Linked DNA regions of Homo sapiens: region 1 is linked to region 2. Evidence: fine-mapped expression QTL. A gene starts in region 2. The other region holds a variant in brackets. All regions are shown on one strand. Distances are between the middles of the regions. Region 1 overlaps ARHGAP15 (Rho GTPase activating protein 15). Region 2 holds the start of ARHGAP15 (Rho GTPase activating protein 15).

What was found.
Region 1: its variant is fine-mapped to the expression of ARHGAP15 in whole blood (TOPMed, PIP 0.93).

What each region holds. Positions count from the first base shown.
Region 1 is chr2:143,248,507-143,256,858 of GRCh38, reverse strand. It overlaps ARHGAP15 (Rho GTPase activating protein 15), which reads right to left. Exons shown (of 14, transcript NM_018460.4): 6 at 6,259-6,348. Among named protein-coding and RNA genes, the nearest start is that of ARHGAP15, 120 kb to the right of the region's middle. The variant A/T (reference allele first, on the strand shown) is at 3,178.
Region 2 is chr2:143,125,472-143,133,823 of GRCh38, reverse strand. ARHGAP15 (Rho GTPase activating protein 15) reads right to left here and starts at 4,405. Exons shown (of 14, transcript NM_018460.4): 1 at 4,358-4,405.

The DNA.
Region 1 (8,352 bases), 120 kb before region 2:
CAATCAATTTTATTTCCTGTCCCCAGATTCTATCATTTGCACTCAATCTTTATATACCCCTGACATTCATATTCTTAAATCAAATCTCTAATTATAAAATTTTATGCCTCCCTCTGTGCAAAATCTGTGTGACCGCATCAACAAAAGTGAAGCTAAACATCATACAAATAATCATATCTCTTTCCCTTCAATCAGAAAAACAGTATTGTACTGATACCTCAGTAGGGGAGTAATAAGTGTCACTATTGTCCCTCTTTCACTTGGGGCATAGTTGCTACACTTGTTTCTATGTTACCTTTTGCAAGTTTCTATTAACAGCTTGGTAGGGCTTTCAAGGTGATATGCTTTTAAGTATTAATTTGAATATGTCATTGATTAATTAATTGGATATTACATTAATGCCACTAAGAATAGCACATTAAAAATAAGATTAAGGATCTATATTCTTAGTCACACAATAAAAAGATTTTCATGTTGTGTATTAAATATCAGTCTATTAAGTTCAGAAGGCAACAGAAAGACCAGAAGTAGAGCAGAAATTTTGAGTTACATTTCACAGATATTTACCTCTCTCAACCCTATTCTTCTAAAATTCATATCTGGAATTTCCCTCAAAACATTGTGAGATGATGTGGTTAGTAGATGAATAATGAAAGTCTGCTGTATTTGTATTAAAATCACTTCTTTGTAGTTGCTCTCAAACAAACATACAGGATTGCTTCATTTTAGTATTAACACAGATGGGCAGGTGAGGTGAGGACTGTCATCTCTTATTTCCTTGGTGTGACAAAGTTGGAGGAGGATCCTGCTGTGAGTTCTGCATAAAGTTACAACTGACATAGCCCAAATTGGAACACACATCCCCAGACCCATGTGTTCTCTCCACTGCACCTCCTGAATGTTGGATGAATATCTAATAGGTAGATGAAATGATTGGGGACAAGCTGTAGGGCAAAAAACAACTGTGTTAGACGTGAATGTTTCTCTTACTCTGGTCTATTTTTAATGCCGTGTCTTTTAAGATACTTTAATTCTCTAAAGTGAAACCAGCTTTACTGGAAATCTAATGCATGTATGAATGTGAAGAATCATCCTTTTGCATTTAGTCTAACTACAAGCACTGAAAAATGAAAGAAAATTGGTAAAAGCTCGGATTTATTTTAAACCACCACTTGTAACACAAGGAAATGGATAAAAGCACAATACCAGTAGTTTTCCTTTTGGCTTAAAATTATGTTTTTTTAAGATGTTATTAAATTATCTTCACATTAATAAACTTAAGTAGTACTTAAACATTTTAAGATAAGACATATTCAGATCAGAAAGATCAAATTATGTTTAAATGTAATGCATATCCATGGAGAATATTACATAAAAAAGTTTAATATACATTGTAGTCAGAAGACTCCATCCAAAGTCAGAGAAGTAATATAAATAATAAATCTATTCCGAGGTTTACTTTTAGGGACAGAATCTGTCCCCCGAGATCTATTTTTTAATATATTGAAAAAGAATCTTGAAAAATAATCTCAAATCCAGGAAATGTGACCATGATATTTGTTGAGGTTACAAATTGGTGGTGGCGGGGGGAGGATAACAGACTTTCCTCTTCTTTAGTCATTTAATTTTTTCTGCCTTTCAAGCAGCAAACAGGTAATTGACATATTCCTAATCAGCCATGATTTATTAATTGGCAGAAATATCCTACTGAAAGCATGAAATCTATAGAAGAGCCCAATGTATGTTTTTAAAAACTTTATTTTAAAGGAAGCTCAGGAAAACTGAGGCCAGTCACTGTCTGGCTCTAAGAAAAGGTAAATTTTTAGAGTAAAAATGATTTAATTATCTTAAATAAATAATGCTGTCTTATAACCTGTAATGAAAAAGACCCAGGAAACAGTTATCTTCTTCATCTTTACTTCCTATTTTACACCCTGGAAATTTTGGAGTACAGGGCCTATATTGTGGATACAAATAACTTTTTTTTTTTTAATAGGAGTGAATTTGTTTTGTTTTATTAAAGGAATGCAACTGTACCCTTAGCAGTAACAATTATTCAGCTAAAAAGTGTTCAGTCTTCTGGCTTAATAAGTAGAAGACAGTATGGGATATAGTTTCTATGTATTTTCTTTGGGGAGACAAGACTAATTTGCATGACAGAATATTTAAGTAAAGGATATTTAAGTACTAAATTTAATGACACGGAAATAATTATAGTGCTCTGAGACTCTCACATATTTAATAAGGGGGTATCTCCTTGGACATTGGGGAATTTTTTAGAGATACATCAGTTGTCTATTTGATAGCCATGTCACGAACTTCCTTTCCCTAGGCTTTCCAAAATATTTAACTCAGAAAGGTTTGTGTTCAAAGGAAAAGACAAAACCTAACTGAAAAATTTCCTTCAACTTAGAAACAAGATATAAGAGTTTTTTTTTTTTTTAAACAAACTTGTTCTAAATTATTTTGCAGCCATTTTCTCAGTTGAACTTCTTATTGAAAGACTGTAACTGCCTAACATGCCCAGCCAGGAAACAGAAGGTGACAGTAGCCCCGCTTGTGTGAGGGAGGCTGCCTGACAATGCTGCCATCCTTTCACATGGTTTTATTTAGTTATTACAACTATCTCTCTGTAAATGACATTTAGGATTATTTAAGATTATGTTGTAATCCTTTTAATCCTTAGTGCTTTAAATTTCAGGCTAAACACCAAAGAGCAAACTAGCACTTAGCAGGAATGTTTAAAACATGTGGTTTGAACATAAATCTTTTTATTCACTCTATCCCTGATGAAGACCTAGTGTTGCTGTTAACTAAGAAAACGCGTACCCAGCTCGTTATAGCTGAGTTGCTAAAGGTTTCTCGAACTACATCAAACTTGTGACAGTCCTTGACAATGAACATAAATGCAGAATTAAACAAAAGTTAGCAGCAATGGACATTTACCACTTTAACTTAGAATTTGTATGATCTTTTATAAATGTGTACTATCTTTCTGTGTTTGTGTGTGGAAGTGCTTACTCTATTTCCTAAGGTCAAGCTATTAGGTGTGTATACACACAGGTAGAGTATATATACATATGTATATTTGCATATATATTTTATGTATATAAGTATATATATTTTATACATGTATATTCATGTATATATTTTAATATAAATTATAACATCTAATAC[A/T]TACTTTATTATAGAATTCTTTTATTATTTATTGTTAAGAAGTACCAATTAGGCCAAAGAGTGTGCTGTTATAAAATATGCAGATATTCTTAAACTTAGCAAGTATCATTCTGATTTACTGAAAGTTGTTGAATACCAAAACTTAATAATTAATGTTGTCATTGTTATGTTTCCACATAGCAATCAAATAAGATTCAGTCCATGTCAACAGTTTGATAGGATTTCAACTAGGAAGGAAAATTTGGATTTCAGTACAAAGAGAAAACAACTCAAACATCCAAACAGCATATATGAACAAATGAAATAAATGAAATCTGTCCATTTTTGGTTGTCACAAATGTGTGCTTCTGAGACTTGCAACATTTCTCAGGCACATACAATTTTTTGTTTGTTTTCCTATTCATTTTAAGTTCAACTTCTCTGCAGACATTGTAATTACATGGCATACAATTGCTAATCCATCAAACTTTTTAAAGACAGATTTCAAATTTTAAAATATTTCTAATTTTGCTCTTCTTTGATTTTCCTTGAACCAAAAATCTCAATAGTCATTTGCTATCTGTAATCTATAATTCATAGACTGAGATTGAACACCAAGCCTAATTCAAACTTGGAATTCTAAAGCTATTTCCAATGTAGCACATCAGCTGAAGCTATGATGGTCTTTTTCAGTCAGGAAGAAACACTTCATTATTCTGCAGGTAATGAAACCATTGCACACATACACTCCAACGTCCAACAATGCCTTAATACCATGTTTTTAAGACATAATCATGTTTATTCTGATCATTTGAGAGTTCGACCAGCTAATGTATCTAATCAAATATTGATGCAAGTCATCTAGATTTAGCTCTCTGGCAAATCCTTCCCGACGCTTTTTTGTTAACAGAACTATAGAAGCTATTTATATTGTTCCTCTCAAAAGGCTTACTCTCATAGTCTGTATCTATGGATATGTATTAGTCAGTTTTACCAAAACTCATGCATTTAGGTGATGAAAAGATTTCAGCACGACAAGGAAACCAAGGGATTCACTCAAAAAGAATGAAACAGAACATGAAACTTGAATCTTTTCTTTTGGTTTGTTATTCACAATATCCTTATGATCACCTCTTGTTTCTCTAAAAGTACAAGACTAAAAAAAAATAAAGCGTCTGTAAGAAGACTGAGGCCCCATGAACTGTTCAATTACATTACAAACAAAACTAGCTGGCAAAATTTTCACCTTCAGAAAGCTACCAAAAGTGAGAATAGTTTTTAATATCTTTGGAAGGATCTACATTCAAAAATATAAAAATCAAATAGAAAATTGCAACAGGAGGTGATTAGTCATATCCTGAAAAGATTGGGATGATACACACTGTCAATATAGGTGGCTGAAATGTCTATCTGTGCATATAATGTTCATAGTTATATAAAAATATACATAATTTTTTCATCAATATTTTCAGCCCTGTATGCATCAAATATAGCTGACTGTCATCCTCATTTGTGAACTAATTTAACTCTTCATAAGATTAACAGAAGAAACTGAAAAAGGCTGGCTTAGCCCATCTCCAAAGAATTGCTATTGTCCAAGAATAATGTCTATGACAAATTTCAACATCTTTTACAATTTTGGTGATTAGGATGCTAAATTCACAGTACATAATAAGGCTCTACCACTGAGCTTTCCCGGTCTACTTCAGAGCTTCTTATGTTGATCATCTAAGTTGTCATAAGGCTAGAATTATAACCTCTAAACTGTTATTTATGGTAGAATAATAAGAGTAAGAAATTGGGGGAAAGGGGAAGTCACTGATCTATAGTTCCTCCCTTTGAAAGAAAGTTTATTTCTCCTTCTTGATTCTGTAAAGCCACATTTTAGTCACTTTCAGCTTTAGAGCATTGATTTCAGGACAAGCGTGTTTGGTTTTCTTCTATCTTTTCTCTCTCCCTTTTATTTCCTTCCTTCCTTTTTAAATTTTATTTTTAATTGACAAATAATAATTGCATATATTCTCTCACTTTCTTGTTTGATAAAAAATCTCTATACCTAAGCAAAATAAAACTAGAACCAGAAAAGTAATTTATTCTAGAATGTGTTAAAATATTTTATGGACCCAAATTATTTGGATATACCTGAATAGCATCTGGAAAATACAAACCGAACTGGAAACCAGCTTCTTCCCCTCAGTGAGAGTGTCGGTAGAAAATGTCACCTACCTATGCTTCCATAGGACCCAATATTAATTTCAGCAAAGCATTTAAGAGTAGAAGAATTGACTTTTATTCAAGGGCCAACATGCTCTCAGAAGACATTTAATTTAAAAAATAATTATTATACTCTATCTCTCTTCTACTAAATTATATAAATTCTAAAATATATCTAATTACTGGTTACTTTGGAAATATAAAATTAAATTTCATATAAAATAGAACAAAAATCAAACTCCAAGATCTCAAATTATTAATTACCAGATAAATCACGCAATTAGGTGATTTTGGTAACGTGTGAAATTACATTTTCCAATTTTATCTCTCTCAAGGATTTCATCTGGTTCTTGCCATTCAATCGAATATGATTGCAATTATTAATCAACTTTTTTTTTCAAAAAACTAAAGTAAGCAATATGAAAGAATCTATTTTTTATAGCTGTTCAGCCCTCTCCATTCTTGTAAGTTATACTGGTAAATGTAATTAATGACTAGAAGGCAAGAGTGTCAATGAATGTAAATAGCTTATACTTGGTGAGTCTTAGTTTGTGTGCATCTGAAAATTCTAGATCAAATCTACTTAAGTCAAACATCCCATGTTTGAACTCCAGACATCTATCGCATATACTGCAAACTTCAATGACTTTTGTGTGTTTATATTAATCAACGTGCAACATACATTTTGTGTTTAGATAGCAACCAGTCGCCAGAAAAAAAGCAACAAAACCAAAGATTCAACTGGGAAGAGGAGTCGCCTTTCATGACCTTCAGACAACGAGTTCATGTACATGAGCACATCACAAGAAGGTAGTCTTATTTTAGTTACCCAAGAGAGCTCAGATTTAGAGAGAATAGGAATAAATTGAATATATGTAACATTCTTACCTGAAAGACATTCTTTCTGCTCGATTTTTCCTTGGCCCATTCAATGTGTGCTCCACACAAATCCACACTTTCTGGTTTGTGCCCAGTTTTCTGTAATCACAAAAATGAAGTAAGAATAAGAGGATGCAACACTGTAGATAGATGTCAGAGAAATAGGAGTTTATTGAGTTAGCAGCTATACATATTTATGATATAATGCCTTTTTTGTTTTCCCCAGGGGAAACCTAATTTGTAGGAATTTTCATTTGGGACCTAATTTTTTTCAATGTCTAAAATTACAGACTTATTTTTAAAATTATTTAATTAACTATAAACCATAGGAAAAATTAATATCTAGAATACTGATATTTTGAGATGGTATTCTTTAGTAATTTAAGAATAATGAAAGTTTTAAAATCTGCTATTTAGTAATATGGAATATTGCTCTTCAATGTCTAAAGTAACATAAAAGCATGTTAAGTTATATTACTTTTAGACCTAACAGTAAAAGAAAAAATTGATAAATCATAGTGCAATGCAAAAAACTGTTACAGAGTTTTAGTTTTGCGACTATAGTAGAGTTGCTTAGAATCTGACTACATCATCTAGAAAATTGAGCAGGTGGATTAATCTCCAATTCCCCTTTCAGGTTTGTGTTTCACATGTTAGCAAATTCAATACATATTTATTAAGTGTCAACTATGCCTTTTAGAAATTCACTTTTCAGACTTTAAGACTATACACACAAATATAATTTCATTTGGTAAATTTAACTTAGACCAAAAGGATTAAAATGTGTGCTTCCTATTACACAATTACAATGTGGGTATTACTTAAAAGATGTTTTTTATTTCAATAATTCACAATAATCAATAGGAATATCACCCACATTTGTCTTTTCATATTTTCACTTGATTCAAGTTAATCATACTTATACAACTTTACATTGGCATACCTCCATACCGCCAATTATTTTTTAAAAAGTTTACCAGTTGAGAATTTCTTTACTATTTTTTCAAGAAGTTTCTCCACAGATAAATTTTCTAGGTTTCTCTGTAGATTCCATACTTTTCTCAAGTCATTGTCCATAAAATACTTCAGAATTTTAGTATATGAAGCTTATTATATTTTTAGCCAATGTTTTTAACATTATGAACATTAGGATAAAACATGAAATTATGAAAGAATGGTAAATATGTTTTAAAAACATATTCTGTCCATGTTTGTTGCCTCTTAGCCATTATATCCAATTCTATAAGTTCAACATAAATAGGCTTTTTCAGAAGCCAGAAATTTGTTTTTTTATGGTAAATTATGAGACTTTTTTCTGGCAACTGAATTTTTTTTTGAAACATTGTATAACTTTCCTACAGGATAAACCCAGCCGGCAGGATAGAATTTGATAGCATATCTACCTTTTTTGTTGTTGTTATTTAGTAACCTCAGGAGAAACCCATCAAAATGAGCCATGCTCCTTAAAGAGATTTTGATCAGTGAAAAGTTTTTATTGTTTCACCCACGCTCTGCCACCCAGGTGATCACTATTTTAGATTTCAAAGCATGATAATGATAGTCTTTGTCAAGTGATTTATGATGTAGAAAAATTAACAACAACATGCTTCTTATAGATTTAATTACATTAGGGGATACTCAGAACCAACGAAAATAATCATTAAGAGTACGTAACAAAATGGCTTATTTTTCCCATACAGTCAAGTCAGGGGGTTAAAAAGGTATAATTATTTTAAGAAGCACTTTTTATGTTCCAGGTACTTACCTACGTACAACAATTATTGATAATTCGTTTAGTGTATAACCTCTGTATCATAGAGAGTTTGTGGGCAATTATACAGAAGTCTAAGGCTAAAATGAGGAAGATTCCGTATTTTCCTTGCCTCTGGAGTTCTAGGGCCCAGCACTGTGGCTAACACATGGACACAAAATAAGTGTGCAATAAATATTAACCAAATGATTCTGTGAAATCTTACATTCACAACTGTATGAGGTAGGTATTATCATCACTAAGTTGTAGGTAAGAAAACCTGCCAGAATAGTTAGGTAAATTTCCTCAAGGTTACCCAGCTAGAAAAGGAGGGGCCAGGATTTAGATCCAAG
Region 2 (8,352 bases):
AGTATAAATATATATATTAAACATGAAAAGTGGTTACGTTGGATTAAGATGGGGATAAATGGGATAGATAGAAATAAAAATATAAGAAATAGCTTATCTAAAAACATTGTGTTTTGGTTTTATATTGATTTTGAACCATCTCACTATATCATCTATTCTTAAATTAAAAGCAAACAAAACAAACAAAAGGCCTTCATCAAATGAAAAAAAAGATTGTTATAACCATAACTTGAATAAGAACCTCAGGCACCTGAACAGGTAAGTCAGTGCCTGTCCTTACAGAAATATCTCCACTGACTTCAAACTCTTCTGCAAAGAAAATGTCACTTCACAGTGAGATAAATGGAAGAAACAAATACATCCTGACCCTAGACAGACAACCCATCAAGATGTAAAAGTGTGGACATCCAATTACGTATCTCCCCTGCTCAAAAACCCTGCTGTTACTTATATCCAGGTCTACTCTATTTATGATCTCACACTATCTTTCTGGCCTACCTCTTATTACTATACTTCTGTCTAACAAAACTGGAGAATTCACACTACTTTGGAATTCTCTGACACGCCGTGTTTTTGTGCCTTGACATATTTCCTTCCTGTCCCTTGCAATGTTTCTCATCTTCCCAGTGCTAGATTTCCCTGAAAACTACCACAAAACTTTCCTCCAAAACTGTCCAGAACTCCCTGAAAGTATGTGATCAGATGATACAACACTTACAAAATTCTCTAGTTTATGGCTCGGCAAATAACAGGAATGCAAAAATGCTGGATGAATTTCTGAACTCTAATAGAGCATTCTCTGTATCTTCTTATGGTACTTGACAAATTGTATTTGCATCATAATTATTAAAATAATAGTCACTCTGGATTATAAGCTTTTAGAAGGCAAATGTTGTGAGGAGTTGTCAAACATACAGTAGCTGTTGAAAAATATTTTAAAATTTAGTTTAATTCAAACTCATGTTTCAATCAGATCCGCCTTTCAATTAAAACTGTATTTTTGTACAATTATGGAATTTGAAGAAGTTGGGAAATAATGACTGTTTAAAATGTGACCATACGTGACTCCGTAGTAGAATTTTGAGGCTTTTGTCCTTTCTTCTGGGGAAAGCATTTTAATTTCTACATCAGGAGACCCCTCTTTTTAGCAGAGAGCCCAAGTGCTGCAGCTGTAGCTGCCCCCAGTGCAGGAGTGGGCCTGTGAGCTAGGCATGGTCACGCATGCTGTCTGCACCCAAGTTCAGTAATTGTTCAGCTATGGTCATGTGATCCAATTCAGTCCCATCAGATCTAAATCTGACACTTTGCTGTGGTGACTGGGGAAAAGCATTCTTTCCCCACAGTTTGCTGAAAGGATCAACTCAGTAGGAGCTTGACAATTTCGTGAGAGCTTCCACTAGAGACTGCTTACAGCATAGTGAAAAGAAGAGCTGAGGAATGAAAAAAATGAGACCTACTCCTGATAATCCTGTGTGAGCTCCTGGATCCAGCCATTCCTGACTTTGCTATCCTTAGACTTTTCACACATAAAAGAATATCTCTTTTGCCTAGGCTAGTTTGAACTCATTTTCTATCGTTTGCCAACAAAGAAGTTTTGCACACTCTAAGCTCAAATTTAGAATACTTACAAGGGCATTTTAAAGTCTAATTATGTAGCATTTATTGTACAGTGTAAAAAATATGCTTTTAGTATCCAAAGAATTAAATTCAGAGTGTTCAATGACTTTTAAAATACATCTATTAAAAACTAATTATGTTAAATAATTTCTAAGTGTATGGGAATATCAAAATTGCCTGAAAATGTAGTGCAATATTTTTTTTTTTTTACCTGCTGCAAGAAAGGTGTTTATTTCTTCAGGACTATCTTAAAGAAATGGATACATCACTGGGATGGATCCTTCATATGAGACACTTCCAGAAATTCTGTGTTTAAATGCCACAGGCAGGACCAATGGTTAACAAAACACTCTCCCTCTAAAGTCTTCCCCCAACCATTTACCATGGCATCAGTCTCCTCACTTGAGATCCAACATTTAGCTAATCCTTTGGGCCCTGTCTGCTGAGGAAACATATTAAAATTCCACTGGGGGGAGAAAGGGAGGCCTGGCTAGGAAGTCAAAGCTCTGTAGCCTTCTCCTATAAGCGTGGATTATTTTTATTAGATTCCCTAAGTGCTGGAAAATGGGATGAGTACATTTTAAAAGTTCAGTTGAATGGAAGGAGCCAGTGAATGGAAGGGTCTATCTTTCTAGGTACCAAGTCTATGGGACTCTAAATTAGGAGCAGAGCAGGCCGCTCCAGAAGAGAATAATAAAAAGGAGCAACAGGAGGAATATCAAGGAAAGAGTTTCTCCTTTCTGAATCTTACTGAATGCTGGCCCTAAGTGGAAAAGCACGACATTCTTTGAGCAAATTAGCTTTAATATGACTTTCCAAATAAAATCTTCCGTATTATTTTCATTTCATCAAAACTTGTTTCTGACTCATCCACTTAAAACATATAAAGTAATAGAATTCTATAGTAACTTATTTGCAATTAACTGTCTTAAAATTTGGTTTGTACCTTACTGCTCTTTACAAACAATTCTGAAGGTATTTTAATTTACCTATCATCTTTACTCATTGATCTTTCTAAATTCATATCAAGCTCTCTTCAATTCATTCTTAATTTTACACATATTCCATAAAATATGTGTATTTTAATTTAACAGTTTCTGCAAGAAACACTCATTTTTACAGTGAATTTCTTTTTTAAAAGCATTAAACAATTTAAAAAATTTTCATGGACTTTTCCTCAATGCCAGATGTTTATCTGCATATTCATTCTTGCTAAGGTGTAAGTATTGCATGTGTTTATTCATTTGATATTCTTTTATAATAAAATGAAAGAAAGTAATAACATATCAACCAAAATTATCAGAATTATACAGCTTCTATAGATGCAGAGGTTCAGAACCACGATATTGAAGACAGATTTAAATAATGCTTTCCATTGTGAGGAAATGCAACAAATTGAAAATCTAATCACAATATCAAAGCAAATATATATTACCAGGGTCTTCTTACATGCTAACAATAAAAAATGTATTGAACACCAAGTCCTAATCTCTATTTTTCTGTGATCATTTTAATAGTCAACAAGTAGCTAGCTTCAGTATTGACAATTGAAGAGGTCTTAAAATGGAGTGTACTACTATGCCTAATAATTTCCTACTAAATTGACCATGTCAAAAAACATTTATGTGTGTCTTTCAATAGAAGACAATAAAAGAAAAGAAAATTGTTGCCACTTATCAACCCTGTAACCATTTTTTAATAACACAAAAAATAGGTGTTGTGGGGGCCATCACTTCTCCCATCCAGCAGCACAATAAAAATAATATTAGGGAAGAATGGATCATATCTTGGGCTGTTATTAAAATTCTTTCAAAAATCTACAGTCAGATTTATTTTAGGTATTTGTCTCTGAGATTAGCAATATTTTGATGTTTTCTGCACATATGTTACAGCACACAAAGACATTCTGTAAAAGCAAGAAGTCAATATAAAAGAAAATTACATGTCAGTTTAGGACTAACAAATCCTTTTCATTTCTAAGGTTTATTATTTTGGAATATTTCAAAGAAGGAAAATTATATAATTACATAAATAACAAAAGTATACCTCTAATTTGCCTCTCCTCTCAGAGTAACCTTCAATGAAATCAGCTGTGACTTCTTTTTTAAATATAAAAGTTTGCTTATGAATTAGAAACTTACACTCATTTCACCCTATATCTTAAATGAAATTTAGAAAAAAAATTTCAAGTGTCATGATAGACAGTATTCCTTTACATTTTAAAAGCTCCTTGCTTTTTAATTAGCTACATAGTAACCTTTTTAAGGGTTTTTAGTGCTAACATTAATACAATGCTTTAAAGTGAGTATCTTTCACACTGAAATTCAAGCTATTTCTCATTGTTATACCCTTTTCTCTTTCCTTATCTGGATGTTGAACAATACATATTTTTATAAAACAGTTGGTTAAAGGTGCAAAGTCTCACATTATTTCTAGTAGTTATTTTTAAATGCACTTCAAACTAAAACTTTATAACTTATTCTGTCTTTAACATTTTAGTACAAAATCTTAGCAAATCATCTTATTATTATAACATTTTAGTAAAAGACATTGGAATTTGACAGCTGCAAATATGAAAAGAACATTCTTTTCTACATCAAAGGAAACCAGCCAATGTTTTAATCACAGGTAAAAGCGTCATATTTTGTAGAAATGTTTATATGTTCACACCAAAATGTAGGAAACTCTGCCGAACATGTTCAAGTTTAAATTTCATGTACAATATAAAGTTAAAACTTACCTTTTCTCGGCAATGACCTGTTATTGAAACTGCCATCAACTCCTAACTGTTAATGACTCTTTCAACAAAAACGGAAAACAGTAAAGTCACATGTCGTAAGAGTAGGCCTGTGTTGGATGCTGCTTAATTTCAGTACTGGGGGAAGAAAAAGGCGGGGGGTGGGGTGAGCACAAAACTTTTAAATAAAACCACTTCCTGGGTAGAGACAGTTAACCACACACATCACATCATTACTCAATTTGAAGAAATTGCCTTGTATAGTCAACAATATTGTTATTTTTCAATGTTATTATCAATTGTCAAACAAGACACATGTATAGAGATTTTATCAATTTTAACTTAAGGGAGGAAAATGTGTGATTAAAAATTCATCAGTGGGAGGAGCAGACTGCTAAGCACTGAAGAAACTTCCTCTTTCTCTGCCTTCTAGCAAGGGCTGAAAAATGAAGCGTCTACTCTGCTGGCTACGCTTGAGATGCTCCCATGCTATCAGGACACTCTGCATATTGACTTTGGAAGCAAGGAAGCCACCTCCAATTCACAGAGCTGGTGCCTCTGCCTCATTCATGAAAGGACCCACCAAAACCTGATCCAGTTAACAGGTTCATCAGGCCTTGGGAGGGTTGCATTAGAACTTCAGAAAACACAGCCCAGAGCCACGCCGCCATCTGAGCATCTGGGGAAAAGGCAGGTGTTCATCATGCTCGTCGAACACACCCTGTGGCATTTGCTGTGACTGTGGCTCTCATACGGATGTGTCCACTCTGGCAATTTCCTAAGCAGTTCTGAAACCTGCTGAAGAGCTTTTGCTCTAGCTGAGTGATTCTTTGTGTGGTCTGACTTAAAAAGAAAAAAAATATATATTATAATAAAGGATCCAAACAATATCATTTTGGCATGCTGCTGAATGCCCTCTTGTGTCAAACTTCAACAAACCCAAGACATATTTGTAAGGGGTCTCAGAAATAACTCTAGGATGTGCATCTTTATTGAGCCATGGAGTTCAAGAATAAGCTCCTGGATTTTCAGGCTTGGCTGGTTTTGTGAGATTTGCAGCTTAATCATAAAAGGAAGAGAGGAAAAGCTTTCCTTCCAAATATATGAGAGAGTTAAATCACAATCTCTTGTCATACAAACCAATTAGACTAGAAATCTGTGTAATAGAGCTCAGTGGTATAGAATGTTTGGCATACTAAAAGTCAATCTTTAAAAATAGATTTGGTGGATATGGCCCAAGTTAGGGATGGCATGTCCCTATCAGTTAACTGAATTTCTCTGGGATCTTTTTCTAAAAATCACATTTCAGATTGACCCTAGAATTCACTGTCAGTTCTCATTTCAGGAAGGACCTTTTTAAGTGTTTAGAGTCCTGAAGATTTGTACTGAATGCTTCTCCTTAACACCGAAGAGAAAATGGAAAGTTCATAATATTAAAAGTGAGGAAAGCAGAATTCCGGGCTTAATTCTGACACTGCTATTCACTTAACCTTGGCCAAGTTACTTAAGTTCTCTGAAATTTAGTTCATTTATCCATGTAATGAAACATCCGCATAAAAAAATCCATCTTGGGGAACACGATAAGTAAATAGATGTATATATTTTGTATATCATAAGGAATTGTAGATATATAAATTAGCATGAGCTGGGAAATGTTGATAACTCCTAAGAAGCATCAGAGAACTTCAGTACATTCTGCTTGATTTAAGCCTTTGTAAATCTGAGTTAGACTCAGAAGTCTAGGACAAGGAAAATAAATTAGGCCTTTCCTTGTTTTTGTTTGCTTGTTTTTACGGAGTCTCGCTCTGTTGCCAGACTGGAGTGCAGTGGCGCGATCTCAGCTCACTGCAAACTCTGCCTCCCGGGTTCAAGGGATTCTCCTGCCTCAGCTTCCCGAATTGCTGAGATTACAGGCATGCACCACCATGCCCAGCTAATTTATGTATTTTTAGTAGAGACGAGGTTTCACCATGTTGGCCAGGATGGTCTCTATCTCTTGACCTCATGAGCCGCCCGCCTCGGCCTCCCAAAGTGCTGGGATTACAGGCGTGAGCCACCACTCCCGGCCATGCCTTTCCTTTTAAATAGATACTAACATCAGGCATCTGACTAGGAAAAATATAAAATAACAATATACCCTTATGGTAATAAATAAATGTAAATACCTGCTTAAGGGTGACACAATATTTGTTGGCATCAACAATTAGTTAATGGAGACAAGTGCCCCTTTTCTTTGTATAAGGTGGAAGGTGAGCCCCTTAGGCAGTGTGATATGCCTGGGTTTGATTTCTTTTTTCTTTTCTTTTCTTTCTTTCTTTTTTTTTTTTTTTTTGAGACAGAGTCTCGTTCTATTGCCCAGGCTGGAGTGCAGTGGCATGATCTCGGCTCACTGCAACCTCCGCCTCCAGGTTCAAGTGATTCCCAGGTTCAAGTGCCTCAGCCTCCCGAGTAGCTGGGATTACAGGCGTGCACCACCACACCCAGCTAATTTTTTATTTTTTTTAGTAGAGACGGGGTTTCACCATGTTGGCCAGGATGGTTGTTAACTCCTGACCTCAGGTGATCCGCCCGCCTCGGCCTCCCAAAGTGCTGGGATTACAGGCGTGAGCCACTGTGCCCGGCCCTGGATTTGATTTCTAAAAGGAGAGGTACTTACTATGATTAAGGCTACAGGTCAGTGCCTTGACACTTGTGGCTTGATATGCTCACTGTTTTTAGTAGCTAAGATTTTTTGAATGTTTGCCATAATCCAAGCATTGTACCAAGCACTTTACATTCATTCTGCCTTTTAATCCTCACAACAAATTTGTGAGCTAGCCAATATTATTGTATTATTTTTACATATGAGGAAACTGAGGTTACTTTGTTGCCCAAACTAGTAAGGAGTAGAGCCAGGAGTCAAACGCAGATGCTCTGACCTCAGAGCCCTTTTTCTCAATTACTGTGCTAGCTCCTAACCACTTGGCATGCAGCACAACTCTAAGCCAATAGTGCTCAGGAAAAATTTTACTTCTGGTATTCCTTTTGCCTTTTCACTGACTGGAATGATCAACTTAGAAGGTAGGAATCATTTCTAGGAATCATAAAATCAAGTCTCCAGAAAGTTCTCTAAATTTTAAATCTATATCAAAGAAATTAAAAGAAGATCAGGATAAACAGAAATGTACTATGTTCACAGATTTTTAAAAAAAGTGGAAATGCATCAATCTACCTAAATTATTCTACAAATAGATTCAATAAAATCATAATTATAATTCCAACTGGACTTTTTGAAGAATGCAATGAGCTCCTTCCAGAATTTCCTAGAAGAACAAATGTCCAAGAATACCTAAGCTCATTTTGAAACAAACAAAAAATCAAGGACTGTTGATTTTCTATGTTAGATTGACATGGTCCAAATCACAGAATTAAAAACATTTCAATGCTGGGCCAAGGAGCAGCTCAGAAAATCAGCGTATTTATTTGGGAACTTGACATATGACAAAGATAGCATCATAGATAAACAAAAAGGAACAGATCTGTTTCATCAGATAATATTGGTGAGACATACTTACTAAATAGAGGATAATAGATTTGGGCTTCTACATTAGACACAGGGAAAGATGGACCTCACATGGATAAAACCACAGTTGAAAGGTCAAACCACGCTGTTGACACAGTAACAGGAAGGAAAATATTTTTGCAAAATGGAACTTTCTTAAACAGTGTCCCTACATTAAAAAGAAAAAGAGCAAAAATATGTGTATTTCACTATACATTATATATTTCTGCTAAAGAAATACATAGACAAATATTATAGAAAAATAAGAGACTAGTAGAAAATATCTAGCTTTACAAAATATTTATACAGACCAATAGGAAAACGATAAGCATCCCAATTGGAGAATAAGAAAATGAGTTGAATAAGTAATTCAATAATAGGATTGTCCTGATATCCAACCAGTGTGTGAAGAGATGCACAAGATCTACAGTAATACAAGTTAAGTTGGCTCCCAATG